Regions from separate parts of the Homo sapiens genome. Here region 1 is linked to region 2. The links come from fine-mapping of genetic effects on gene expression. A gene starts in region 2. The other region holds a variant in brackets. All regions are shown on one strand. Distances are between the middles of the regions. Region 1 has its middle 52 kb from the start of CD163. Region 2 holds the start of CD163 (CD163 molecule).

What was found. PIP is the estimated chance that this variant, and not a neighbour inherited with it, causes the effect.
Region 1: its variant is fine-mapped to the expression of CD163 in whole blood (TOPMed, PIP 0.98).

Annotation. Positions count from the first base shown.
Region 1 is chr12:7,547,735-7,563,443 of GRCh38, forward strand. No RefSeq gene overlaps it. Among named protein-coding and RNA genes, the nearest start is that of CD163, 52 kb to the left of the region's middle. RefSeq lists a silencer at 9,606-9,806. The variant T/A (reference allele first, on the strand shown) is at 9,666.
Region 2 is chr12:7,495,874-7,511,582 of GRCh38, forward strand. CD163 (CD163 molecule) reads right to left here and starts at 7,904. Exons shown (of 17, transcript NM_203416.4): 1 at 7,772-7,904; 2 at 6,605-6,691; 3 at 5,266-5,589; 4 at 2,995-3,315; 5 at 940-1,260. The coding sequence starts at 7,817. RefSeq lists an enhancer at 1,675-2,176.

The sequences.
Region 1 (15,709 bases), 52 kb after region 2:
ATCAAGTCGGCTTCATCCTTGGGATGCAAGGCTGGTTCAACATACGCAAATCAATAAACGTAATCCATCACATAAACAGAACCAATGACAAAAACCACATGATTATCTCAATAGATGCAGAAAAGGTCTTCAATATAAATCAACAACCTTTCATGCTAAAAACTCTCAAAACACTAGGTATTGATGGAACATATCTCAAAATAATGAGAGCTATTTATGACAAACCCACAGTCAATATCATACTGAATGGGCAGAAACAGGAAGCATTCCCTTTGAAAATGGGCACAAAACAAGGATGCCCTCTCTCACCACTCCTATTCAACATAGTGTTGGAAGTTCTGGCCAGAACAATCAGGCAAGAGAAAGAAATAAAGGGTTTTCAATTAGGAAAACAGGAAATCAAATTGTCTCTGTTTGCAGATGACAAGATTGTATATTGAGAAAATCCCACTGTCTCAGCCCAAAATCTCCTTAAGCTGATAAGCAACTTCAGCAAAGTCTCAGAATACAAAATCAATGTGCAAAAATCACAAGCATTCCTATACACCAACAACAGACAAACAGAGCCAAATCATGAGTGAACTCCCATTCTCTCAATTACTACAAAGAGAATAAAATACCTAGGAATCCAACTTACAAGGGATGTGAAGGACCTCTTCAAGGAGAACTGCAAACCACTGCTCAATGAAATAAAAGAGGACAAAAACAAATGGAAGAACATTCCATGCTCATGGATAGGAAAAATCAATATCGTGAAAATGGCCATACAGCCCCAGGTAATTTATAGATTCAATCCTATCCCCATCAAGCTACCACTGACTTTCTTCATAAAATTAAAAAAAAAAACTACTTTAAAGTTCGTATGGAACCAAAAAACAGCCCGCATAGCCAAGACAACCCCAAGCAAAAAGAACAAAGCTGGAGGCATCATGCTACTTGACTTCAAACTATACTACAAGGCTACAGTAACGAAAAGAGCATTGTACTGGTACCAAAACGGATATATAGACCAATGGAACAGAACAGAGGCCTCAGAAATAACACCACACATCTACAACCATCAGATCCTTGACAAACCTGACAAAAACAAGCAATGGGGAAAGGATTCCCTATTTAATAAGTGATGCTGGGAAAACTGGCTAGCCACATGTAGAAAGCTGAAACTGGATCCTTTCCTTACACCATACAAAAAAATTAACTCAAGATGGACTAAAGACTTAAATGTAAGACCTAAAATCATGAAAACCATAGAAGAAAATCTAAGTAATACCATTCAGGACATAGGCATGGACAAAGGCTTCATGACTAAAACACCAAAAGCAATGGCAACAAAAGCCAAAATTGACAAATGGAATCTAATTAAAGAGCTTCTGCACAGCAAAAGAAACTACCATCAGAGTGAACAGGCAATGTACAGAATGAGAGAAAATCTTTCAATGTACCCATCTGACAAAGGGCTAATATCCAGAATCTACAAGAAACTTGAACAAATTTACAAGAAAAAAACAAACAACCCCATCAAAAAGTGGGCCAAGGATATGAACAGACACTTCTCAAAAGAAGACATTTATGCAGCCAGCAGGCATATGAAAAAATACTCCTCATCACTCGTCATCAGAGAAATGCAAATCAAAACCACGATGAGATACCCTCTCATGCCGGTTAGAATGACAATCAGTAAAAAGTCAGGAAACAACAGGTGCTGCACAGGATGTAGAGAAATAGGAACACTTTTACACTTTTGGTGGGAGTGTAAATTAGTTCAACCATTGTAGAAGATAGTGTGGTGATTCCTCAAGGATCTAGAACTAGAAATACCGTTTGACCCAGTGATCCCATTACTGTGTATATACCCAAAGGATTATAAATCATGATACTACAAAGACACATGCACACATATGTTTATTGCAGCACTATTCACAATAGCAAAGACTTGGAACCAACCCAAATGTTCATCAATGATAGACTGGATTAAGAAAATGTGGCATATATACACCATGGAATACTATGCAGCTGTAAAAAAGGATGGTTTCATGTCCTTTGCAGGGACATGGATGAAGCTGGAAACCATCATTCTCAGCAAACATCACAAGGACAGAAAACCAAACACCACATGTTCTCACTCATATGTGGGAGTTGAACAATGAGATCACTTGGACACAGGGCAGGAAACATCACACACCAGGGCCTGTCAGGGGTTGGGGGTCTGGGGGAGGGATAGCATTAGGAGAAATACCTAATGTAAATGATGAGTTGATGGATGCAGCAAACCAACATGGCACATGTATACCTATGTAACAAACCTGCACATTGTGCACATGTACCCTAGAACTTAAAGTATTAAAAAAGAAAGAAAACAAGAAAATTTAAGTCTATGCAAAACCTGCACATGGATGTTTATAGCAGCTCTAGTCATCACTGCCAAAATTTAGAGGCATACAAAATGTCCTAGATGAATGTATAAATGAACTCGGGTACATTCAATCAATGGAATTGTATTAGTAGGTGAATGAATAAAGGGACTTGGATATATTCAATCATTGGAATTTTATCAGCACTTAAAAGAAATGTGTTACCAAGTTATGGAAAACATAGAGAAACTTTAAGTGTATATTACTAAGTAAAAAAGTCCATATAAAAAGTAAAAAAAAAAAAAAAAGAAATGGTAAATGCTTGAGGTGATGGATATTCCATATATCTTGTTATGTTTATCATGCATTGTATGGCTGTATCAAAATATCTCATGCACCCCATAAATATATACACATACTATGTACCCACAAAAAGTAAAAATTAAAAAAAAAAAAGAGGCTGAACCTGCCTGCCTGTTTTCTTCCTCTCTCACCATGTGATCTCTTCACACTGCTCTCCTTAGCCTTCCCCCATGAGCAGAAGTAGCTTGAGGCTGTCATCAGATGAAGATGCTCAAGGTTTCTGGCCACCATGAGAATTGTGAGCCAAATAAACTCTTTTTCTTTTAAAAAGAAAGAAAAAAAGAAAACACCTTTTAAATCTCCAATTATATTTGAGGCTTATATTATCATTAACTCCCCAAAGCACTAAATCTTAGTCCTGAGAATGTAGGAAACCTTATAGTTTAGAAGATACTCCTTGAGAAGAGCAACTCCAAGACACATAATTGTCAGATTCACCAAAGTTGAAATGAAGGAAAAAATGTTAAAGGCAGCCAGAGAGAAAGGTTGGGTTACCCACAAAGGGAAGCCCATCAGACTAACAGCTGATCTCTCAGCAGAAACTCTACAAGCCAGAAGAGAGTGGTGACCAATATTGAACATTCTGAAAGAAAAGAATTTTCAACCCAGAATTTCATATCCAGCCAAACTAAGCTTCATAAGTGAGGGAGAAATAAAATACTTTACAGACAAGCAAATGCTGAGAGATTTTGTCACCACCAGGCCTGCCCTAAAAGAGCTCCTGAAGGAACCACTAAACATGGAAAGGAACAAGTGGTACCAGCCACTGCAAAAACGTGCCAAATTGTAAAGAACATCAATTCTAGGAAGAAACTGCATCAACTAATGAGCAAAATAACCAGCTAACATCATAATGACAAGATCAAATTCACACATAACAATATTAACTTTAAATGTAAATGGGCTAAATGCTCCAATTAAAAGACACAGACTGGCAAATTGGATAAAGAGTCAAGACCCATCAGTGTGCTGCTTTCAGGAGACCCATCTCATGTGCAGAGACACACATAGGCTCAAAATAAAGGGATGGAGGAAGATCTACCAAGCAAATGGAAAACACAAAAAGGCAGAGGTTGCAATCCTAGTCTCTGATAAAACAGACTTTAAACCAGCAAAGATCAAAACAGACAAAGAAGGCAATTACATAATGGTAAAGGGATCAATTCAACAAGAAGAGCTAACTATCCTAAATATATATGCACCCAATACAGGAGCACCCAGATTCATAAAGCAAGTCCTTAGTGACCTACAAAGAAACTTAGACTCCCACACAATAATAATGGGAGAATTTAACACCCCACTGTCAACATTAGACAGATCAACGAGACAGACAATTAACAAGGATACCCAGGAACTGAACTCAGCCGTGCATCAAGCAGACCTAATAGACATCTACAGAACTCTCCACCCCAGATCAAAAGAATATACATTCTTTTCAGCACCACACCACACCTACTCCAAAATTGACCACATAGTTGGAAGTAAAGCACTCCTCAGCAAATGTAAAAGAACAAAAATTATAACAAACTGTCTCTCAGACCACAGTGCAATCAAACTAGAACTCAGGATTAAAAAAACTCACTCAAAACCACTCAACCACATGGAAACTGAACAACCTGCTCCTGAATGACTACTGGGTAAATAATGAAATGAAGACAGAAATAAAGATGTTCTTTGAAACCAATGAGAACAAAGATACAACATACCAGAATCTCCAGGACACATTCAAAGCACTGTGTAGAGGGAAATTTATAGCACTAAATGCCCACAAGAGAAAGCAGGAAAGATCTAAAATTGACACCCTAACATCACAATTAAAAGAACTAGAAAAGCAAGAGCAAACACATTCAAAAGCTAGCAGAAGGCAAGAAATAACTAAGATCAGAGCAGAACTGAAGGAAATACAGACACAAAAAACCCTTCAAAAAATTAATGAATCCAGGAGCTGGTTTTTTGAAAAGATCAACAAAATTGATAGACCACTAGCAAGACTAATAAAGAAGAAAAGAGAGAAGAATCAAATAGATGCGATAAAAAATGATAAAGGGGATATCACGAATGATCCCACAGAAATACAAACTACCATCAGAGAATACTATAAATACCTCTATGCAAATAAACTAGAAAATCTAGAAGAAATGGATAAATTCCTGGACACATACATCCACCCAAGACTAAACCAGGAAGAAGTTGAATATCTGAATAGACCAATAACAGGCTCTGAAATTGAGGCAATAATCAATAGCTTACCAACCAAAAAAAGTCCAGAACCAGACGGATTCACAGCCGAATTCTACCAGAGGTACAAAGAGGAGCTGGTACCATTACTTCTGAAACTATTCCAATCAATAGAAAAAGAGGGAATCCTCCCTAACTCATTATTTTATGAGGCCAGCATCATCCTGATACCAAAGCCTGGCAGAGACACAACCAAAAAAGAGAATTTTAGACCAATATCCTTGATGAACATTGATGCAAAAATCCTCAATAAAATACTTGCAAACCGAATCCAGCAGCACATCGAAAAGCTTATCCACCATGATCAAGTGGGCTTCATCCCTGGGATGCAAGGCTAGTTCAACATACCCAAATCGATAAATGTAATCCAGCATATAAACAGAACCAAAGACAAAAACCACATGATTATCTCAATAGATGCAGGAAAGGCCTTTGACAAAATTCAACAACGCTTCATGCTAAAAACTCTCAATAAATTATTGATGGGACGTATTTCAAAATAATAAGAGCTATCTATGACAAACCCACAGCCAATATCATCCTGAATGGGAAAAACTGGAAGCATTCCCTTTGAAAACTGGCACAAGACTGGGATGCCCTCTCTCACCACTCCTTTTCAACATAGTGTTGGAAGTTCTGGCCAGGGCAATCAGGCAGGAGAAGGAAATAAAGGGTATTCAATTAGGAAAAGAGGAAGTCAAATTGTCCCTGTTTGCAGATGACATGATTGTATATCTAGAAAACTCCATCATCTCAGCCCAAAATCTCCTCAAGCTGATAAGCAACTTCAGCAAAGTCTCAGGATACAAAATCAACGTACAAAAATCACAAGCATTCTTATACACCAATAACAGACAAACAGAGAGCCAAATCATGAGTGAACTCCCATTCACAATTGCTTCAAAGAGAATAAAATACCTAGGAATCCAACTTACAAGGGATGTGAAGGACCTCTTCAAGGAGAACTACAAACCACTGCTCAATGAAATAAAAGAGGATACCAACAAATGGAAGAACATTCCATGCTCATGGGTAGGAAGAATCAATATCATGAAAATGGCCATACTGCCCAAGGTAATTTATAGATTCAATGCCATCCCCATCAAGCTACCAATGACTTTCTTCACAGAATTGGAAAAAACTACTTTAAAGTTCATATGGAACCAAAAAAGAGCCCGCATTGCCAAGTCAATCCTAAGCCAAAAGAACAAAGCTGGAGGCATCACGCTACCTGACTTCAAACTATACTACAAGGTAACAGTAACAAAAACAGCATGCTACTGGTACCAAAACAGAGATATAGACCAATGGAACAGAACAGAGCCCTCAGAAATAATGTGGCATATCTACAGCTATCTGATCTTTGACAAACCTGACAAAAACGAGCAATGGGGAAAGGATTCCCTATTTAATAAATGGTGCTGGGAAAACTGGCTAGCCATATGTAGAAAGCTGAAACTGGATCCCTTCCTTACATCTTATACAAAAATTAATTCAAGATGGATTAAAGACTGACATGTTAGACCTAAAACCATAAAAACCCTAGAAGAAAACCTAGGCAATACCATTCAGGACATAGGCATGGGCAAGAACTTCATGTCTAAAACACCAAAAGCAATGGCAACAAAAGCCAAAATAGACCAATGGGATCTAATTAAACTAAAGAGCTTCTGCACAGCAAAAGAAACTACCATCAGAGTGAACAGGTAACCTACAGAATGGGAGAAAATTTTTGCAACCTGCTCATCTGACAAAGGGCTAATATCCGGAATCTACAATGAACTCAAACAAATTTACAAGAAAAAAACAACCCCATCAAAAAGTGGGCAAAGGATATGAACAGACACTTCTCAAAAGAAGACATTTATGCAGCCAAAAAACACATGAAAAAATGCTCATCGTCACTGGCCATCAGAGAAACGCAAATCAAAACCACAAGGAGATACCATCTCACACCAGTTAGAATGGCGATCATTAAAAAGTCAGGAAACAACAGGTGCTGGAGAGGATGTGGAGAAATAGGAATGCTTTTACACTGTTGGTGGGACTGTAAACTAGTTCAACCATTGTGGAAGTCAGTGTGGCAATTCCTCAGGGATCTAGAATTAGAAATACCATTTGACCCAGCCATCCTATTACTGGGTATATGCCCAAAGGATTATAAATCATGCTGCTATAAAGACACATGCACACGTACGTTTATAGCGGCACTATTCACAATAGCAAAGACTTGGAACCAACCTAAATGTCCAACAATGATAGACTGGATTAAGAAAATGTGGCACATATATACCATGGAATACTATGCAGCCATAAAAAATGATGAGTTCATGTCCTTTGCAGGGACATGGATGAAGCAGGAAACCATCATTCTCAGCAAACTATCGCAAAGACAAAAAATCAAACACCACATGTTCTCACTCATAGGTGGGAATTGAACAATGAGAACACATGGACAGAGGAAGGGGAACATCACACACCGGGGACTGTTGTGCGGTGGGGGAAGGGGGGAGGGATAGCATTAGGAGATATACCTAATGCTAAATGACGAGTTAATGGGTGCAGCACACCAGCATGGCACATGTATACCTATGTAACAAACCTGCACGTTGTGCACATGTACCCTAAAACTTAAAGTATAATAATAATGAAATTTAAAAAAAGAAAAATAAAAAATAAAAAATAAAAAAAGAATTTACTATCTTATTTGGAGACTAGGCAATTACAAATGATGTTATGAGATTTACACAAAGAATGATATTATGAATATATATAAAAAAGAACCTATTAACTCTGCTCTTGGTACTCTAATTGAAGGTTCACAACAAATTCCAGTTCAATAATGTCAGATATTCTTATTTTAAATACTTATATAAGTAAATAAGTGATACAGAAAAAAAAAACCTGTAGGTATTTAAGCAGGGGATAGTATTACATTATAAATTGCCCTCAGAGTCCCTCTCAAATGGTGGTTTCACTGCATTTCCAAAAGTGTCTTCTAAACCATGGTGGGTTTTTTTTGTTGTTGCTTTGGGTTTTTTTTTGGCTTTAGTAACTGAATTATTTCATGGTCCAAGTGGCACACAATAAGAAGTTCAATCTTCAATGCACTTTAAATCCAAGAATTTAAAGTTAAAAGAACAACAAAGCAGGATATAAAGACTATTTAAAAAGTAGGTCCAGTAAATAGTGACGAAATTAGAATGACTGAAGTCGGGGGAAAGCACAGACTGATCAGATTACAGAGACTGCTTAGGACATGAGAATGTTTCCTTTAGTGTTAAAAATAGAAACAGGATATGAGGCAGGAGTGGAGCCCAGTTGTAGTGATCAGGCAAAAATATAGGACAAAATGTCACACCTCTTGGTTCATCAAAATGCTGGTGCTATGCTTGTATAAGAAAGCAGGATTGCCACCGTAAGTTTGTAATTTCAATAATGGCAAAAGTGAAAGAATATTCAGGAGAGAAAACGGGAATTGCAGAAGTCTTTTTACTTCTTCAAAATCATAAAGTCTAGAAACTATGTATCAAAGTTATAAAAAATTAGACCTTTAAAAATTAAGAAGTCACTTTAAAAATCAGATATTAGGGCTGGGCGCGGTGGCTCACGCCTATAATTCCAGCACTTTGGGAGGCCAAGGCGGGCGGATCGCCTGAGGTCAGGAGTTTGAGACCAGCCTGGCCAACATGGTGAAACCCCGTCTCTACTAAAAATACAAAAATTAGCCGAGTGTGATGGCGCATGCCTGTAAATCCCAGCTACTCCGGAGGCTGAGGCAGGAGAACAGCTTGAACCCTGGAAGCGGAGGTTGCAGTGAGCTGAGATCACGCCACTGCACTCCAGCCTGGGCGACGGAGTGAGACTCTGTCAAAATAATAATAATAATAAGATATTAAACATGAAAAAGGAAAATATAGCTTCAGGAGCAAAGAAGCACAAATACCAAATTCTAACATATAAAAGAAAAAAATAAAGAAAACTAAGGCCTTTGCAGAAGTCAAGCCAATCCTGTCTACTAACAATCGCAGAGGACCCATTCTTTACCCAGGGCATATGCTGTGCATTTTCAGGCACATGGCCTCCTTTCATCTTGCCAGGCACTTTATAAAATCATTAATAATTTCTGCATCTTGCAGATAAGAAAACTGAGGCTTAAATAAGTTAAATGCTGTACTCAACATTGTATTATGTAGAAGAACAAGGATTGAAACAGTGACACTTTGACTCCATGCCCATTTTCCTTTCCATTTAAACATATTCTGATAGGATTAGAAAACTCTTTATAAAAAGATCCCAGAAAACTTTATGGCAAAGAAAAGCAAATTGCACAATGAATTTTCATCATGAAGAACACAATCTCAGAGACCAGAAACTTTCATTTAGTCTGAAGAAAAAAAATGTAAACTCTAAGCAAAACTTAAATCCAGAGTAAAAGTGCCAGTACAAATGGGCAAAGAGAATGTAGTGGGCTTCAGAAATATTTGTATCATTTCTTTATTGTCAATGCTCCAGATGGAAGAATGTTACCACTTATTTATAGTATAGAATCTTTTCTCCTATTCTCTGTAGAAAAAAAAAGGAGTAATATGTCAGATAACAACCAAATTTATTCTTTCTATTAAATTCCAAAAGTGGTATGTGAGATTTATGGTCATCCTTGTTAAGTTTCTTTAAAGCTTATGAGCATAGAGATGAGTGTTTTCATAACGG[T/A]TTTTTAAAGGAAGAGCGTAATGTGCTTCCCTTTTTTAAAGGCAGCTGCTTGCAAAACCCAGAAACAGTACATCCAGTTACTTGCTGAAAACCTCAGCCTTTTACATCCACAATAAAAATTGAGTACAAAATGTACAAAGCATAGATTTTCCCCATGTGATTATTATTAAATCCTTAATTCAAAAATATTTAAGAATTTATTAATAGGCATCGATCCTAAGGAAGCAAGTGAACAAGATACATATGCAGAGTTATTTATAGTAGTGAAAATTTTGAAATAAATGTGTATCCAATAAGAGAATAAAATTTTCAATAAAATTTAGGACATCAATTCAACAGACTATTATGCAGCTATTAAAAATGATAATGACACTCTAGGTGCTGATATAGAAAATCAGTATTATTTTATAAGTTAGAAAGGAAGGTTGCAGAACATTAAAATATATAATTACATTTTACAAATACCTACACATATTTATATTTTTACATATATCTATATATATATTAAAAGGTCTGAAATGATAAAAATTGAATTATACTTTACTTATTTCTGACTGACCTGTACTATATATTTTATTTTATATTAAAAGTAAAGAAATAACTTTTTAAAATAGCATATGGCTCCCTATGTGTAATTTATCAGGGGAATATGGTTACGTTTGAAACACAGAAAGACAACCAGAAGGAGAATAAAAAATAAAATGAAAAGCAAAGTGTGTATTCCAAGTGGTTATGAAATCTCCCGATATCTAAAGTTAATCTTTAGTTTAGCTGGGCACAGTGGCTCACTGTAATCCCAGCATTTTGGGAGGCCAAGGCAGGAGGATTGCTGAGGCCAGAAGTTTGAGATCAGCCTGGCCAATACAGTGAGACCCCATCTCTACAAAATATAGAAAAATTAGCCAGGTGTGGTGCTGTGTGCCTGTAGTCCTAGCTATTTAGGCAGCTGAGGTGGGAAGATTGCTTGAACCCAGGAGTTCAAGGCTGCAGTGAATCATAATTGTGCCACTGCACTCCAGCCTAAGTGACAGAGCAAGAGCCTGTCTCAAAAAAAAAAAAAAAAAAAACCCACCACCAAGAATAACACAACAACAAACCAAAACAACAACAACAAAAGTCTTCAGTTTAATAGTAAATTATCTGTAATTTGAGTCCTTATCCTGTGGTCCTGCAGAGAACTCAGTCCTTCTGCCTAGAATCTCCAAAACTCTCCCGTGAATGTTTACATGATTTGGTCACTTCTCAAAGTATCCCTTCTCCCTTCTCTAGGACCACCTCTGTTCTCTTATACATTTTTCTTCCTAATATTGCTGCTAATAACCTTTCATGAAGATTTAAAGAATTCATTAGGAAAGCAAGAGAAAACAGAAAACTTAAAAGTGAATATCAGATAATCCTTGCCCTGTGACCATTAATACTGCCCTGTTATAGAGGTTCTTTAGTGGAGAACCAACAACTCCCTTTTTAGCCCCAACCTTCTCATGTTTCTGGGACTTGCTTCTACTCAAAGCAGAGGTCTCTCTCTGTTATTACATATTTACCATGGCCCCTACAAGTAAAAATATAATAATCTGTCATTATTTAATATATAGTAACCTCAACACCAATAAAAAATAATCATTTTGCTTTATTTTGCAGAGCTTTTCCCCCTAGTTTTGGCTAAGTGTTTTAACACCTGGCATAATCGAGGGTAATTGAGGAGTTCTCCCAAACAAAAGAGCCCCTAAACATGTCTTCTGCAATTCCTAAATGTTGAAGTAACTAGGAACAGCTTATAAATCAGTAATGTTTTGTGGTATGTGGTACAGGAGTAATTCAAGAAAAATGATAAGGGCCTGAATTAATGCAAGGGCACATTAAGAGAAGACAGTTAATAGATATTAGAATAAAGAAGTAAATAAATTTGGTTAATGGATGCAGGCACTAATGGAGTGGTGTAGATGACTTCCAGATTTTCTGCCAAGCAAATAGGTTGGAGAAGATCAGAGGGATCTTCAATGTGGTTACAAATACTGGTACACAAGTTTTTGGGTACACAAGTGTTTTAGAGTTCAATATGAATTTGAGATTATTCTGAAAAAGCTAATCCTCAGGTGTCTGGCATTATGGGGAGGCACTGAAAAAAGAAAGTAAAAATCTTCAGAGAATGGATAAGAAAAGAGAAGAATCATTCATACATTTCATGTCTTACCAATAAATTCGACATACAAGTAGGCAGAAAAACGAGTGCCCAACAATAATAACAAAAGTCAGTTGATAAAAAGGAAAAATGTGGCAGGTAAGTTAAAAAGACATTTGTTATTGAAGAAAAGTGGCTTATTATTCTGTGACAGTTTTTATGAACAGGACAAATGACATCTATCATTTTGACCATCAAATCAAGAATGTGACTTAGATGCTGGGAGAAAAATTGTTAGAGAGCCAGTATGAGCAACAATTCAAGAAATATGCCAAGATGGATGGCTATGTAAGTCTGAATGGGGTATTTCTGGGGACTGATTCTAATTCAGATTGGAGCTCAGCTTTAATCCTTTCTCCACTCCATAAACAAAATTAAAAAGGCAACCTGAAACAGAAAGTAAAATCTCTTGGAAGAACTTTGTTAATCTAAGTATAATTAGACATTACAAGATATAAATGGGTAAAATCCATGTATTACCAATATAGATCCTGTCACATACATGAAAAGGATGTTAATGGCAACACCACCAATTTTCAGTGTTCAGGGCAAAATTCTCGGGGTCATCCTTGATCCCTCTCTTACTTCCATGTTCCATATCCAATTCTTCAGGAAATCCCATTTGCACCACTTCCAAAATACATCTACATCCATTGACATCATCCTGATCAGGGTCACCATCATCCCCTGCCTGGAATCCCACTCCAGCCTCCTAACTACTTTTGCCTTTCCTAAGTATCTATTCTCATCAAGATAACCAGGGTAAACTTTTTAAATTTTATGTCAGATCATGTTACTGGTTAATTCAAAACCCTTCAAAGGGTCCCTATCTCATTCAGAATAAAAGCTGTTACTTAAAATGGCCAGTCTATAGGGAAGTAACCAGCTCACCCCACGACTACCACCACTCTCCTCACCTCTCTGAATCTTCTTTGACTATTTCCCTATCTATTAATATCCACCCACACTGGCCATCTTGCTGTTCTCAAGCACCCCACTTTTAGTCCTGATTTAGGGCTTTTGCATTGGCTGTTCCCTTTTCCTTGAATATTGTTCCCCAAATAGCCACCTGGCTAATGCGAAAAATGTTAAGGGCAGCCAGAGAGAAAGGTCAGGTTGCCTGCAAAGGGAAGCCCATCAGACTAAGGCAGATCTTTCTGCAGAAACCCTACAAGCCAGAAGAGAGTGGGGGCCAATATTCAACATTCTTAAAGAAAGAATTTTCAACCCAGAATTTCATATTCGGCCAAAGAAAGTTTCATAAGTGAAGGAGAAATAAAATCTTTTACAGACAAGCAAATGCTGAGAGATTTTGTCACCATCATGCCTACCTTACAAGAGCTCCTGGAGAAAACACTAAAAATGGACAGGAACAACCAGTACCAGCCACTGCAAAAACATGACAAATTGTAAACAACATCAATTCTAGGAATAAACTGCATCAACTAACGAGCAAAATAACCAGCTAACATCATAATGACAGGATCAAATTCACACATAACAATATTAACCTTAAAAGTAAATAGGCTAAATGCCCCAATTAAAAGACACAGACTGGCAAATTAGATAAACAGTCAAGACCCATCAGTGTGCTGCTTTCAGGAGATCCATCTCACGTGCAGAGACACACATAGGCTCAAAATAAAGGGATGGAGGAAGATCTACCAAGCAAATGGAAAACAAAAAAAAGCAGGGGTTGCAATCCTACTCTCTGATAAAACAGACTTTAAACCAACAAAGATCAAAACCAGACAAAGAAGGCCATTACATAATGGTAAAGAGATCAATTCAACAAGAAGAGCTAACTATCCTAAATATATATGCACCCAATACAGGAGCACCCAGATTCATAAAGAAAGTCTTTAGAGACCTACAAAGAGACTTAGACTCCCACACAATAATGATGAGAGACTTTAACACCTCACTGTCAACATTAGACAGATCAATGAGACAAAAAGTTAACAAGGATATCCAGGTCTTGAACTCAACTCTGCACCAAGCAGACCTAATAGACATCTACAGAACTCTCCACCCCAAATCAACAGAATATACATTCTTCTCAGCACCACATTGCACTTATTCCAAAATTGACCACATAGTTGGAAGTAAAGCACTCCTCAGCAAATGTAAAATAACAGAAATCATAGCAAACTGTCTCTCAGACCACAGTGCAATCAAACTAGAACTCAGGATTAAGAAACTCACTCAAGGCCAGGCGCGGTGGCTCACGCCTGTAATCCCAGCACTTTGGGAGGCCGAGGCGGGTGGATCATGAGGTCAGGAGATCGAGACCATCCTGGCTAACAAGGTGAAACCCCGTCTCTACTAAAAATACAAAAAATTAGCTGGGCGCGGTGGCGGGCGCCTGTAGTCCCAGCTACTCGGGAGGCTGAGGCAGGAGAATGGCGTGAACCCGGGAAGCGGAGCTTGCAGTGAGCCGAGATTGCGCCACTGCAGTCTGCAGTCCGGCCTGGGCGACAGAGCGAGACTCCGTCTCAAAAAAAAAAAAAAAAAAAGAAACTCACTCAAAACTGCTCAACTACACGGAAACTGAACAACCTGCTCCTGAATGACTACTGGGTACATAACAAAATGAAGGCAGAAATAAAGATGTTCTTTGAAACCAATGAGAACAAAGACACAACATACCAGAATCTCTGGGACACATTTAAAGCAGTGTGTAGAGGGAAATTTATAGTACTAAATGCCCACAAGAGAAAGCAGGAAAGATCTAAAATTGACACCCTAACATCACAATTAAAAGAATAGAGAAGCAAGAGAAAACATATTCAAAAGCTAGGAGAAGGCAAGAAATAATTAAGATCAGAGCAGAACTGAAGGAGATAGAGACACAAAAAACCCTTCAAAAAATCAATGAATCCCAGAGCTGTTTTTTTTTAAAAGATTAACAAAATAGGCCACTAGCAAGATGAATAAAGAAGAAAAGAGAGAAGAATCATATAGATGCAATAAAAAATGATAAAGGGGCTATCACCACTGATCCCACAGAAACACAAACTACCATCAGAGAATACTATAAACACCTCTATGCAGATGAACTAGAAAATCTAGAAGAAATGGATAAATTCCTGAACACATAACACCCTCCCAAGACTTAAACTAGGAAGAAGTTGAATCCTGGAACAGACCAATAACAGGCTCTGAAATTGAGGCAATAATTAATAGCCTACCAACCAAAAAAAGTCCAGGATCAGACAGATTCACAGCCGAATTCTACCGGAGATACAAAGAGGAGCTGGTATCATTACTTCTGAAACTATTCCAATCAATAGAAAAAGAGGGAATCCTCCCTAACTCATTTTGTGAAGCCAGCATCATCCTGATACCAAAGCCTGGCAGAGACACAACAAAAAAAGAGAATTTTAGACCAATAACCCTGATGAACATCGATGCAAAAATCCTCAATAAAATACTGGCAAATGGAAACCAGCAGCACATCAAAAAGCTTATCCACCATGATCAGGTGGGCTTCATCCCTGGGATGCAAGGCTGGTTCAACATACACAAATCAATAAACGTCATCCATCACATAAACAGAACCAAAGACAAAAAACACATGATTATCTCAATAGATGCAGAAAAGGCCTTTGACAAAATTCAACAGCCTTTCATGCTAAAAACTCTCAATAAACTAGGTATTGATGGGACGTATCTCAAAATAATAAGAGCTATTTATGGCAAACCCACAGCCAATATCATACTGAATGGGCAAAAACTGGAAGAATTCCCTTTGAAAACTGGCACAAGACACGGATGCCCTCTCTCACCACTCCTATTCAACATAGTGTTGGAAGTTCTGGCCAGGGCAATCAGGCAGAAGAAAGAAATAAAGGGTGTTCGATTA
Region 2 (15,709 bases):
GTGGGAGTGTAAATTAGTTCAACCATTATGGAAGACAGTGTGGTGATTCCTCAAGGATCTAGAACTAGAAATACCATTTGACCCAGCGATCCCATTACTGGGTATATACCCAAAGGATTATAAATCATTCTACTATAAAGACACATGCACATGTATGTTTATTGCAGCACTATCTACAATAACAAAGACTTGGAACCAACCCAAATGCCCATCAATAATAGACTGGATAAAGAAAATGTGGTACATATACACCATGGAATACTACGCAGCCATAAAAAAGAATGAGTTTATGTCCTTTGAAGGGACACAGATGAAGCTAGAAACCATCATCCTCAGCAAACTAACACACAAGAACAGAAAACCAAACACTGCATGTTCTCACTCATAACTGGGAGTTGAACAATGAGAACACACGGACACAGGGAGGGGAACATCACACACTGGGGCCTGTCAATGGGTGGGGGGAAAGGGGAGGGAGAGCATTAGGACAAATACCTAATGCATGGGGGGTTAAAACCTAGATGACAGGTTGATACGTGAAGCAGACCACCATGGAACATGTTTACCCATGTAACAAACCTGCACATTCAACACATCTATCCCAGAACTTAAAGTAAAAAAATAAGTAAATTAAAAAAATTTAAAAACAGATTCCTAGGAAATTTTGTCTCTCTGAGCTCCAGGTAGATTCTGAGTTTGAAGTGTGCTCCATAAAAGCAGTCTGAGTAATTATTACAGAGAATGCCGTCAGACAACCTTCCAAACTAGTTGAATAAAGAATGTGTCAAAGATTACAGGTATAAAGGAATTCCCAGCAAGGAATTTACTAGGCATTTCTACTTCTTAAGGAGCACGTTCCTACTCTTAAGGAGCACAGGACTTTCCGTTTCTGCTTTTCTTTTTGTTTAGTGTTTTGGTTTTGGTTTGGTTTTAACTTACCAGAACATGTCACGCCAGCATCTTCATTGTGATTGCAATAATGCTTTCCCCATTCATGGTGTTTACATTGCCAGATAGCAGGTTCATGTCCCTGGCAAGAAACGCTGTCAAGCCAGATGTGTCCAAATCCCTTACTGGCGTTAACTCGACCAATGGCTGTGACGGCAGTTGGACATCCCAGTTGCTTGCATGCCACAGCAGCATCGTAACTGTCCCAGCCGTCATCACATATTGTCCCCCATTCTCCTTGGAATCTCACTTCTAATCTTCCTGAACATTCAGTGACTCCATCTACCAGTCTCAGGCTCAGATCTGCTCCCTCTGTAACAGAGACACACAACAGGTCTGCGATAAGGAAGCAAGAACATGAGACTATAAATAGCTATACCTGAGATGAGTTAAGGAAAAGGGGAGAGATATAAGTGGAGACAGAGAAAACTGTGATGTACTGTACTACCACTGGAAATCATTCAAGATGGAAGGAGGAGTGGATCAGGCAAGAAGATGGGACATCTCAGTATAGACAGCATATACTACAGGAAGTGTTTCTAACAGGAGATACAGGGACTGAATTTCATCTAGAGACCTGCTATTTGACCACCACAGAGTTCTTGTTAGAACTGTTTACTTTTTCTGGTTAAAATATATTTGCATGTGTTTAGGTGACTCCCTCATCCTTCAGTTTGCCTCCATACTTAGCAATCCCTTTTGCCTCTGACTGCATTCTCCATTGATACTACCTAGCCTGTGTTGTACACCTGAACCTGTTGTGACCACTTCCTTAGTTTAAAAGCAGAGCAAAGAGAAAGGAGGCTTCAGTACTACAATTTTCACCTTCCCCAAATCAATATTCTTCAAAGAACAGACGTTGATTCTGAAGAATATTCTGTAATAAATTAAACTGGTTGTTTCCTCTGGCAGTTTCCGTTTTCATTCCCACAATGTTATTCATTGTGGGATTGTGATTCGTCAGCATGTGCTAACTGGGGGCCTAGAGAAATGTTGATGGGTAAAAGAGAATGGAAGGTACAGTCTGTGTTTTTTCTACTCCAAATTCTTCACATTCTTAACCTAACAAAATCTATCTTTCTTGTAGGAGTTCCATTCATTGTGGTTCAGGCTATAGCTGATCACATTGTTCAACAAGAAAAAGCTTGTTCAAGACATGCAGAAAGAGATAGAACCCAGATGACATTGTTCAAGAACCTGAATCCAACCATGCATGAGGCTAACTATACCCTCTGGATTTCCCAGTTTTGTGAGCCAGTATTCTCTTCTTTTTAAACAAGTTTGAATGGAAGTTCCTTTATTTACACACACACACACACACACACAGAGAGAGAGAGAGAGAGAGAGAAAGGGATCTGGTGAAGATAGGGATTTTTTACTCTTATTTTCCTAAGTGTTCTCTGGGGTTCAAGACACACTCAATCTCCTTTTATACTAAGAATTCAACAGAAAAACGAAGAGTGGTATCTCTGCACACACAAACGATTTTCCCCGCCCCCAGTCTGAGTATACAACGTGAAAGTCTCTAGACAGATACAATGCATATCTAGTATAAATAAAGTTTTAATGAGAAACCAATATTGATTTTTAACAAGTGATTCGATTCTGTGAACTTGAAAAATGATTTGGGAAGGAGTGGGTTAATGAGGCTAATGAGGAGGCTTTTGTGGATTAGATGATAACTGGAGTGGTTTGGTCATAAAACTTCATAGTGCAAAATATCCTAGTAAAGCCCTTCCTTCTTTCCTTTTTCCCCTCTTTTTCTTTTCGGTCTCTCCCTTTCTTTATGGGCTTTTCCTAAACACTTTCTTCTTTTCTTATGACCTGGATCTCAGTTTCACTATGCACTTCCCTAACCTATTTCTCCTAATTTCAGTTAAGGTAAAAAGTCCACAGGTATCAGAACTGGAACCTGAAGTTAGGTTAAAATGCGGTGACAAAAGAAGCAGACTTCATTATGTTCTTAAGAGTTCAGGCTCTTAAGATTTATTACCCCTTTCTTTTGTCCTCTCCTGGAGAATAGAATGAGCCAAGATCAGTCCTTACTTGAGCAAATCACTCCAGCATCCTCAGCATGATCACAGTTATGCTTTCCCCATCCTTGATGTTTGCAGTTCCAGAGAGCTGACTCATTTCCGTTGCATATAAGATCATCAAACCAGATTGGTCCAGAGCCTTCTCCAAAATTAGATGAACCAGAGAAACTGACAGCACTTCCACATTCAAGTTGTCTACAAATGACAGATGCATGATCTATGTTGAAGTTATCATCACACACTGTTCCCCACCGTCCTTGGAATTTGATCTCTATTCTTCCAGAACACATATTCCCTCCACGCGTCAGCCTCATTTCCAAATTGGATCCATCTGGAGCAGAGAAAAGACCAGAGTTCAGAAGTTACATTCATTTAGAAGTGATTTTAGAAAAGAAGTTTCCTCTGGACACTTGGGATTTTATGTTGTCCTTAAAATGGTGCCTGATTTTGGACATTGCCCAGCTCCACACGGTAGAGAATTTTAATATGTTAAAATCTAGGAAGCAATTAGGATTTTTATCTATATCTACTTACAAAGGAAAATGTTTACAGGTTAAAGTTTTTAAACTTTCTGTTTTGTTTTGTTTCCATCTATTACTAGGACAGATGTAAATACTCTTTTTTGTACAGAAATAGATAAATTCGACTCAAGTTATTTAAATTTGACTCAGGTTAAAGCTTTAAGTGTATAAATTTCAAAAAGCAAATTGATTAACTCCACTGGTAGTTATAAAACAACAGAAAAAAAGAGCTAAAAGTACTACACTGTTTTAGCTAAACAGCCAGTTCTATACACAGCAATAATTATGATAAGAGCCTGCTAAAATTTATGATAATTTTAAACTTTGCAGTAGATGTTACTTTTGTTATTCCCCATTTCACACCTCCCATAGTGGTTAAAAATAAGAGGAAAGAAGGAGGAGAAGGAGGAGAAGGAAGAGGAAGAGGAAGCGGAGAAAGAAGAAAGAGAACTGAGTCACCAAGAGAACTGAGCCATGAGGATCTTCAGCACCTGTTACATACCAAACAGTGTACCAGTAGTTTTACATGTATTATATCATTGAATCCTCAGAAACTGAAGTTTAGAGAGATTTGACAACTTGCACAAAATCACAGGATATTAGCTATGTGAAAATTTATTTCAGCATTTTTCTAGATGCTACTGTGTGTTTCTCTTATCACATCATGATGCCTGGACAGAGATAAGTCCTTTCTATAGTCAGTCCTATGGGAGAGAGAGAGGCTGGGAGGTGAGAGGATTGTATAAAAATTAATGAAACAGGCCAGTCACGGTGGCTCACACCTGTAATCCCAGGATTTTGGGAGGCCGAGGCAGGTGGATCACCTGAGCTCAGGAGTTCGAGACCAGCCTGGCCAATATGGTGAAACCCTGTCTCTACTAAAAATACAAAAATCAGCCAGGTGTGGTGGCAGGTGCCTATAATCCCAGCTACTCGGGAGACTGAGGCAGGAGAATTGCTTGAACCCGGGAGGTGGAGGTTGCAGTGAGCCGAGATAGCGCCATCGCACTCCAGCCTGGGGGACAAGAGCGACAATTCGTCCCAAAAAAAAAAAAAAAAAAAAGGAATGAAACAAACAAAAAGAAATGGGGATCCCAGGAATCTGAGTTGGATCAGAAATGTGCCCTTGGGATTTGTCAGCAGAAAGGCCTGACACATGACTTTCTCAGTTATTGTGGGGTCAATTGCAATAAAACATATGGAGATGTTTTGTAAATTAAAAGCACAATGTAAATGAAATGACTAGCATTGCACACTGGTCAAGCAATTATACTTTCAAAGAATCCTTCCTACAACAAGAAATGATGTATTAATGCTAGAAATAGTTGTTTTTTGATTTACTAAGTTGATTATCAGTTAATGGACAAAATGGTAATAATTTGTGGGTCAACATATCAAAACAAGTCACTGGGAAAGAACAAGGAAATAACTTAGATGTCATGATATTTTTATGATATAGGAATAGTAGGTTACAGTAAGCTTACTGAATATCAAATTTAAACCACCACTTCTTGGCTTTTTGGCTAAGATCATGTATAAAATTGAAGCCAGTCACCTCCTCATTAATCACAGTGTTCAGAATTTTTTTTATTAAAAAAAAATGACCTCGTGTTTTGTGGTTTTCTAGCAATGGATGGAGTACTTTTATACATGAACTAGATTGCTTACAGGAAAGTGGCTTATTCTAGGTTTTAACCCATCTACATATTTTTTTCCCACCAAGGATTTTGTGTTGAGGCTTTGACTAATGCAAGTCTTACCTGAGCAGGTCACTCCAGCATCTTGTTGGTGAGTACAGTTACTATGCTTTCCCCATCCATCATGTTTGCAATCCCAAAGAGCTGACTCATTCCCACGACAAGAAACATGATCCATCCAAATGCGTCCAGAACCTGCACTGGAATTAGCCCATCCAGGGGCTTTGATAGCAGTTGGACATCCCAGCTGGTTACAAATCACAGAGACCGCTTCCATGCTCCAGCCATTATTACACACCGTTCCCCACTCCTCCTGGACTTTCACTTCCACTCTCCCGCTACACTTGTTTTCACCATCCACTAGCCTCAGCTCCTTGTCTGTTCCTCCTGCAACAATGGATTAAGACAGTAATTGGCCAAGGTCGCAAAGAGCAAGTAGAAAATTATTTTTTTACATTACTTATTTATCCTTCAAACTCAGATTTGAGAACCATCCTAGTCCTATCCATGGTAAAACAGAAGAATGTTATTTCACAGTCATTCAAATATAAGTATCAGTATCACTGGTTTCAAATTAAGCAGTGCTATATGACCAGTAAAGGTAAGTAACACAATAGTGTTTAATAGCTTTATTTTATGGCTGGATAGCCTTAATAGTGGCAATTTATATAATTCCTGTGAAGCATTTTCGAGTTAAATAAGATGCTACAAAACGTTATGGGGATGAACTTTTTACATTTCTCCAAAATCCTAAGGTCGATAGAAAGAAGGCTGATAGAGAATTTATGAAGATGAAAAGACTAGTTGTAAGAAATTTAACTCTTATTTCATACGTATATGTAAAATAGCATAAATCTTAAAAACGCTAGACTGAAACTTATCTAAAATTAAGATGGAGATATTTTCTGCTATTTTCTACCATAAAATAAACCTCTTTGTACTCTCTTCCCATCCCCAGATGATAGATGATCTCAGTTGCCTCCTTGGCATTATTTTAGCTTTATGTAGGAATCTGGTCCCACCAACCTGGCATCTCTCAATACATTTTTAGATAAATTTTGGCATTTGAATTTACTAATGTGTTTCCCAAATTCACTTTTGTTTTAATGATTCTGAAGTTTCTCCTCCTTTGTATTCTTTCCTATTTTTCAGTTCAACATTATTTCTAATCTTTAAGTAAAATTCATTTCTCTCCTGTGAGTTTATTTCATTTGGTGAGGAACCATGCTAATATTTTGGTTAGATTTTTATTGTGTGCTTTTAATAATATCTGATCCTTTGAATACATGGAGCATGTCACCTAGTTTTTAGATGCTACTTGGCCTTCAGAAAAATTGTTTGCCTTTTAACTGTTCTTGTCAGAGTGGGCTAAGGCTGTAAGTAAATTTGACAAAGTACTCACCAAGAGAACTGGTGACAAAACAGGCACTGAGAAGTAAGACCACAGTAATGGTGAAGGGACTCAAGTTGACAAAATGTCTTCTGAAGTCTGTGAAAAAGAAAAGAGGGCAAAAGTAGCATCTTCCCAAAAAGAGACTTTGGAGAAGATAGATGGTTTCAGAGGTTAATTAACAAAGAAGCTCAAACCAAGACAGAAAACTCTTCATTCTAAATTGCAAGGCAGGCAGAAAACATTCATACCCAGGCTCATATAGTTTCAGTGAAATGGTTTTGAAAATGTTCATGTTTATAGGCAACCTAGAGGTGACGGATTAGCAGAAGGTTGGTGGTGGAAACGAGAATTGCAAGGTCAACCCTTAAAACCTGGAAAATGGAAACAACATCAATGAAACTTAGTAGTGGACAATTCTCCCAGCAGGCACAGGGAAGGTATCCTGAGATTTCTCTATTCCCTAACCACCTTGATATTCAATTATGGATGCCCCCATCTTTAAGACTACCTAGCCGCACTGATAGAGGATAAGTTCCATGAGTAAACGAATTATATCTATCATGTTCACCATAATTTCACCAGTACCTGGCTTGATGCTTGCCAAATAGTAGCTAGCAGAACAATACCTAAGTGATGATATCCATATCTGAAAAACTCAAATATTAAATCTTGTCATCTCTACCTGTATCCTTATCACATAATACACTCTTTAATGCTGTTATTACTCTCATATCTTCTCGTTACTCTAACCCAACACTAATTTAAAACTAAAAATGCTAAATGATTTTAACATGTCCAAATAAGTCTTAAAATAGATAACTCACTTATCAGAGTAGATAACTTTCTTTATGTAATTAACTCTCTATCAATATTCCTTTCTGCATATTCTATCTTTTCTAACAACTATTTTTTCATACTCAGTACATTTCAGTTAACTTTAGTTCCTGACTTAATTTCACCTCAGCAGTTTTACAAAATTAATGCCGACTCTGATTCCCATATCACATCTTCAATTTTGAATCTATGGCAGATCAAAGGTGCTGCCATATAAGCCTATGTCCTTTTTCCACTCCTTACTCTCCTGATGCCAATCACTTTTAAATCACATCCATTGACTGTCATAATAATTACATACCCCATTAAAGGGGAAATGTAGAATAAATGAGAAGCTTTTACCAGCAGATCCAGAGTCTTCAAGTAGCACCATTCTGAGTTTGCTCATTCCAAAGATTTATAACTTCAATGATTCCTAAATCTTCTTGTATTATTCCCTAGAAATGTTCTTCTAAAGAAAACAACTAAGAATTCTAAAAATCACTTCACTTTCATGAAAATGAAAAGGCTACATATGGAGGCGGAGTCAACTCAAAAAGGGAAGTCATTGAAAGAGCTGAGGTTCCATTTCATACTCATGTTTTCTTCAATATAGCACATGAAACAACCAAAGGAAATTGGGAAACACTTCCCACAGATTTCGAAAAATTAGAGGAAATACTAACTCATATGCTGCTGTTGCTGAATTAAATATTTTACATTTTTGAACTTCATTTTGGACAAATATATAAGACACAAAAAATTACTAATTGTCATGTAGAAAAATTATGTAAAAAACTAAAGCAAAACAGGCAAAACATAATTAAATAACATTTTATCATATGCACTTTTAATTTTATTTCCATAATCAAATGTGTCTAATGAGTAATTTTGTGTAAGTTGTTGAGACACAGCATTTGTCATTTCTTTTCTAATGGGATGAAGTACACCAAGAGAATTAGCCATGACTATTACTGATATTACAAATGGTGAAACAAAAATTAGCAACACATGATTTTAGCTCTATATAACTCAGATTCAAGTAAGAGAAACACATATGATAACAACAATGAACATAAAGCTAAAGTGCAGTGTTAAAAATAATGGACAAAGTAGTCCTATCTATTGAGAGAAAGGAATGAACAGTCAGAAAACTATTTTCTCTGAGGACAGGCTTAAATTGTGTCCTAAAAGATGAGAAAAACATTGCCAAAGGGACAAATGATAAAGGAGTTTAAGGCATAAAAAATAGCACATACAAATGAATATTTGTATATAAAAACATATAAGCTCAAAAGAACTACTAATAGTTCATCATGGCATACATATTGTCAGGTGTTAGTGATGGGCCTGAAATGGGGAATTAAAGAGCAACTCCAGCCTTCCAGAGAGACATTCACTAGAACCCAGTCAACAAAGGCACCCCAGTTTTCTTCCACTTCTCAGGCATGCCAAATCTCTCCCTGCCTCATGGTATGTCATACATATTGTTCCTTCTGTGTTTACTGCCTCCCTACCCGTACCTTTCTCTAAGATAACTCTCACTCACGTATACTTTATTTCTCAGTTAAACCTCCCTTCACTAGGAGAAATAACTCTAACGCTGAAAGACCCCAGAAAATATGCACTCATGATAGCCTGTACTTATGAGGGTTGTCAATTATATATATATTTTTTTCCTTTTTTTAAATTATTATTATACTTTAAGTTTTAGGATACATGTGCACAACATGCAGGTTTGTTACGTATGTATACATGTGCAATGCTGGTGTGCTGCACCCATTAACTCGTCATTTAGCATTAGGTATATCTCCTAATGTTATCCCTCCCCCCTCCCCTGACCCCACAACCGTCCCTGGAGTGGGATGTTCCCCTTCCTGTGTCCATGTGTTCTCATTGTTCAATTCCCACCTATGAGTGAGAACATGTGGTGTTTGGTTTTTTGTCCTTGCGATGGTTTGCTGAGAATGATGGTTTCCAGTTTCATCCATGTCCCTACAAAGGACATGAACTCATCATTTTTTATGGCTGCATAGTATTCCATGGTATATATGTGCCACATTTTCTTAATCCAGTCTATCATTGATGGACATTTGGGTTGGTTCCAAGTCTTTGCTATTGCGAGTAGTGCCGCTATAAACGTACGTGTGCATGTGTCTTTATAGCAGCATGATTTATAATCCTTTGGGTATATACCCAGAAATGGGATGGCTGGGTCAAATGGTATTTCTAGTTCTAGATCCCTGAGGAATTGCCACACTGACTTCCACAATGGTTGAATTAGTTTACAGTCCCACCAACAGTGTAAAAGCATGCCTATTTCTCCACATCCTCTCCAGCACCTATTGTTTCCTGACTTTTTAATGATCACCATTCTAACTGGTGTGAGATGGTATCTCGTTGTGGTTTTGGTTTGCATTTCTCTGATGGCCAGTGATGATGAGCATTTTTTCATGTGTTTTTTGGCTGCATAAATGTCTTCTTTTGAGAAGTATCTGTTCATATCCTTCGCCAATTTTTGATGGGGTTGTTTGTTTTTTTCTTGTAAATTTGTTTGAGGTCATTGTAGATTCTGGATATTAACCCTTTGTCAGATGAGTAGGTTGCGAAAATTTTCTCCCATTTTGTAGATTTCCTGTTCACTCTGATGGTAGTTTCTTTTGCTGTGCAGAAGCTCTTTAGTTTAATTAGATCCCATTTGTCTATTTTGGCTTTTGTTGCCATTGCTTTTGGTGTTTTAGATATGAAGTCCTTGCCCATGCCTATGTCCTGAATGGTATTGCCTAGGTTTTCTTCTAGGGTTTTTATGGTTTTAGGTCTAACATGTAAGTCTTTAATCCATCTTGAATTAATTTTTGTATAAGGTGTAAGGAAGGGATCCAGTTTCAGCTTTCTACATATGGCTAGCCAGTTTTCCCAGCAACATTTATTAAATAGGGAATCCTTTCCCCATTGCTTGTTTTTGTCAGGTTTGTCAAAGATCAGATGGTTGTAGATATGCGGCATTATTTCTGAGGGCTCTGTTCTGTTCCATTGATCTATATCTCTGTTTTGGTACCAGTACCATGCTGTTTTGGTTACTGTAGCCTTGTAGTATAGTTTGAAGTCAGGTAGCGTGATGCCTCCAGCTTTGTTCTTTTGGCTTAGGATTGACTTGGGGATGTGGGCTCTTTTTTGGTTCCATATGAACTTTAAAGTAGTTTTTTCCAATTCTGTGAAGAAAGTCATTGGTAGCTTGATGGGGATGGCATTGAATCTATAAATTACCTTGGGCAGTATGGCCATTTTCATGATATTGATTCTTCCTACCCATGAGCATGGAAGGTTCTTCCATTTGTTGGTATCCTCTTTTATTTCATTGAGCAGTGGTTTGTAGTTCTCCTTGAAGAGGTCCTTCACATCCCTTGTAAGTTGGATTCCTAGGTATTTTATTCTCTTTGAAGCAATTGTGAATGGGAGTTCACTCATGATTTGGCTCTCTGTTTGTCTGTTATTGGTGTATAAGAATGCTTGTGATTTTTGTACATTGATTTTGTATCCTGAGACTTTGCTGAAGTTGCTTATCAGCTTAAGGAGATTTTGGGCTGAGACGATGGGGTTTTCTAAATATACAATCATGTCATCTGCAAACAGGGACAATTTGACTTCCTCTTTTCCTAATTGAATACCCTTTATTTTCTTCTCCTGCCTAATTGCCATGGCCAGAACTTCTAACACTATCTTGAATAGGAGTGGTGAGAGAGGGCATCCCAGTCTTGTGCCAGTTTTCAAAGGGAATGCTTCCAGTTTTTGCCCATTCAGTACGATATTGGCTGTGGGTTTGTCATAGATAGCTCTTATTATTTTGAGATACGTCCCATCAATAATTTATTGAGAGTTTTTAGCATGAAGCGTTGTTGAATTTTGTCAAAGGCCTTTTCTGCATCTATTGAGATAATCATGTGGTTTTTGTTTTTGGTTCTGTTTATATGCTGGATTACATTTATTGATTTGAGTATGTTGAACCAGCCTTGCATCCCAGCGAAGAAGCCCACTTGATCATGGTGGATAAGCTTTTTGATGTGCTGCTGGATTTGGTTTGCCAGTATTTTATCGAGGATTTTTGCATCAATGTTCATCAAGGATATTGGTCTAAAATTCTCTTTTTTGGTTGTGTCTCTGCCAGGCTTTGGTATCAGGATGATGCTGGCCTCATAAAATAATGAGTTAGGGAGGATTCCCTCTTTTTCTATTGATTGGAATAGTTTCAGAAGGAATGGTACCAACTCCTCCTTGTACCTCTGGTAGAATTTGGCTGTGAATCCACCTGCTCCTGGACTTTTTTTGGTTGGTAAGCTATTGATTATTGCCACAATTTCAGAGCCTGTTATTGGTCTATTCAGAGATTGAATTTCTTCCTCGCTTAGTCTTGGGAGGGTGTATGTGTCGAGGAATTTATCCATTTCTTCTAGATTTTCTAGTTTATTTGCGTAGAGGTGTTTGTAGTATTCTCTGATGGTAGTTTGTATTTCTGTGGGATCGGTGGTGATATCCCCTTTATCAATTTTTATTGCGTCTATTTGATTCTTCTTTCTTGTCTTCTTTATTAGTCTTGCTAGCAGTCTATCGATTTTGTTGACGTTTTCAAAAAACCAGCTCCCAGATTCATTAATTTTTTGAAAGGTTTTTTGTGTCTCTATTTCCTTCAGTTCTGCTCTGATTTTAGTTATTTCTTGCCTTCTGCTAGCTTTTGAATGTGTTTGCTCTTGCTTTTCTAGTTCTTTTAATTGTGACGTTAGGGTGTCAATTTTGGATCTTTCCTGCTTTCTCTTGTGGGTATTTAGTGCTATAAATTTCCCTCTACACACTGCTTTGAATGTGTCCCAAAGATTCTGGTATGTTGTGTCTTTGTTCTCGTTGGTTTCAAAGAACATCTTTATTTCTGCCTTCATTTCATTATTTACCCAGTAGTCATTCAGGAGCAGGTTGTTCAGTTTCCATGTGGTTGAGCAGTTTTGAGTGAATTTCTTAATCCTGAGTTCTAGTTTGATTGCACTGTGGTCTGAGAGACAGTTTACTATGATTTCTGTTGATGCAGTTTCTTCCTAGCCTTGATAGTCTTTACATTTTGTCATGTTTTGGCAGTGGCTGGTACCAGTTGTTCCTTTCTATGTTTAGTGCTTCCTTCAGGAGCTCTTTTAGGGCAGGCCTGGTGGTGACAAAATCTCTCAGCATTTGCTTGTCTATAAAGTTATTTCTCCTTCACTTATGAAGCTTAGTTTGGCTGGATATGAAATTCTGGGTTGAAAATTCTTTTCTTTAAGAATGTTGAATATTGGCCCCCACTCTCTTCTGGCTTGTAGAGTTTCTGCCGAGAGATCCGCTGTTAGTCTGATGGGCTTCCCTTTGTGGGTAACCCGACCTTTCTCTCTGGCTGCCCTTAACATTTTTTCCTTCATTTCAACTTTGGTGAATCTGACAATTATGTGTCTTGGAGTTGCTCTTCTCGAGGAGTATCTTTGTGGTGTTCTCTGTATTTCCTGAATCTGTATGTTGGCCTGCCTTGCTAGATTGGGGAAGTTCTCATGGATAATATCCTGCAGAGTGTTTTCCAACTTGGTTCCATTCTCCCCATCACTTTCAGGTACACCAATCAGACGTAGATTTGGTCTTTTCACATAGTCCCATATTTCTTGGAGGCTTTGTTTGTTTCTTTTTATTCTTTTTTCTCTAAACTTCCCTTCTCACTTCATTTCATTCATTTTGTCTTCCATCACTGATAACCTTTCTTCCAGTTGATCGCATTGGCTCCTGAGCCTTCTGCATTCTTCACGTAGTTCTTGAGCCTTGGCTTTCAGCTCCATCAGCTCCTTTAAGGACTTCTCTGCGTTGGTTATTCTAGTTATCCATTCATCTATTTTTTTTTCACAGTTTTTAACTTCTTTGCCATTGATTTGAATTTCCTCCTGTAGCTCGGAGTAGTTTGATCATCTGAAGACTTCTTCTCTCAGCTCGTCAAAGTCATTCTCCATCCAGCTTTGTTCCATTGCTGGTGAGGAGCTGCATTCCTTCGGAGTAGGAGAGGCACTCTGCTTTTTAGAGTTTCCAGTTTTTCTGCTCTGTTTCTTCCCCATCTTTGTGGTTTTATCTACTTTTGGTCTTTGATGATGATGATGTACAGAAGGGTTTTTGGTGCAGATGTCCTTTCTGTTTGTTAGTTTTCCTTCTAACAGTCAGGACCCTCAGCTGCAGGTCTGTTGGAGTTTGCTGGAGGTCCACTCCAGACCCTGTTTGCCTGTGTATCAGCAGCAGTGGCTGCAGAACAGCAGTGGCTGTAGAAGAGCGGATCTTGGTGAACTGCAAATGCTGCTGCCTGATTGTTCCTCTGGAAGTTTTGTCTCAGAGGAGCACCCGGCCATGTGAGGTGTCAGTCTGCTCCTACTGGGGGATGCCTCCCAGTTAGGCTGCTCGGGGGTCATGGACCCACTTTAGGAGGCAGTCTGCACATTCTCAGATCTCCAGCTGCGTGCTGGGAGAACCACTACTCTCTTCAAAGTTGTCAGACAGGGACATTTAAGTCTGCAGAGGTTACTGCTGTCTTTTTGTTTGTCTGTACCCTGCCCCCAGAGGTGGAGCCTACAGAGGCAGGCAGGCCTCCTTGAGCTGTGGTGGGCTCCACCCAGTTCGAGGTTCCCAGCTGCTTTGTTTACCTAATCGAGCCTGGGCAATGGCAGGCGCCCCTCCCCCAGCTTCGCTGCTGCCTTGCAGTTTGATCTCAGACTGCTGTGCTAGCAATCAGTGAGACTCCATGGGTGTAGGACCCTCCGAGCCATGTGCGGGATATAATCTCCTGGTGTGCTGTTTTTTAAGCCCATTGGAAAAGCGCAGTATTAGGGTGGGAGTGACCTGATTTTCCAGGTGCCCTCTGTCACCCCTTTCTTTGACTGGGAAAGGGAACTCCCTGACCTCTTGCGCTTCTCTAGTGAGGCAATGCCTCGCCCTGCTTCGGTTTGTGCACAGTGCGCTGCACCCACTATCCTGCACCCACTGTCTGGCACTCCCTAGTGAGATGAACCCAGTACCTCAGATGGAAATGCAGAAATCACACGTCTTCTGCGTTGTTCACACTGGGAGCTGTAGACCGGAGCTGTTCCTATTTGGCCATCTTGGCTCCACCCCTCCCAATTATATTTTTATATTTATTGTTTATCTTACTTGCTAGTCTTAAGATACCAGGATAGGAACTGTGTTTTTTTCAAAAAGATATCTACCAGTCCCTGCCAGATGCTAGGCTCAATATTACCTATTTTGTTGTTGTTGTTGACAATGTTGTTATTATTGCTGAGGTAAACAAGGACTACATGAAGAGGAGTTTTATATACCATGTTAAAGAATTATAATTTTACACTGTAGGCAAGTAATGACATTAAATAGTTTGAAACATGAGTATTAAATTGCTTTGTCTTTTACATATCTCATCTTGGTAGCAACTTTGAGGATGATTGGTGGCCAGGGTAAAAATGGAAATAAGAGCAAGATTAAATGCAGTGCAAGTGAATATTATAGCAAAAATCTAATAGAATAAGAGCCCGATTGAAAAGATATAGTAGAAAAATGGAAGAAATAGATTGGTGCAAAATTAAAAAGCTAGGTGAACAAGACATTTTTGCTTTTATTCAAAATGAAGAAACAGGAAGTGTGTTTACTGTCCCACCAGAAACAACTAAAAACAAAGCCAAACATGTGTAACAATGATTTTCAAGACACTGAAAATGAGGCAACAAGAAGAGTTGTTGCCTGGATCTCAAAGATAGTGATCCATGAGAGATGAGAAGCTAAGCTGAGTTTACTGCCTTGAGATAGTTTCCAGGCTACCATGGAATAGGAAACCCAGAGAATGATCAGAGGAGTCTCAGAGTTGGGAAGAAGCAGCTGAGAATCTGGGAGACTAAGGTGGCTAGAATTCACAGCAAATAGTCTCACAGAGGAGAAACTTGCAAGAAGAAAGAGAGAGAGAGAGAGAGTAGGGAGGAGGCAAGGAGAGAGAGCTGAATATCTGTAGAGTCCCCTTTGAGTATTCAGCTGAGTATTGTTAAGTGCATGCATGTGAGCAAATCACCTGAGCCTGGGGAAAGAATAATGAAAGGATTAGAGTTACACACAGGGCCAGGAAAAGTGACTGTTCACATGGAAAACTCACAAGTCATGGGGTATTGGGTAGAGTTCACAGATGAGTCTTACCACAGTGGTGGGAAATAAGTAGCCCTAGCTACTTGCTGATTAGATCCCACCTAACAAATTTTAAAGACAAGACCCAAAGAA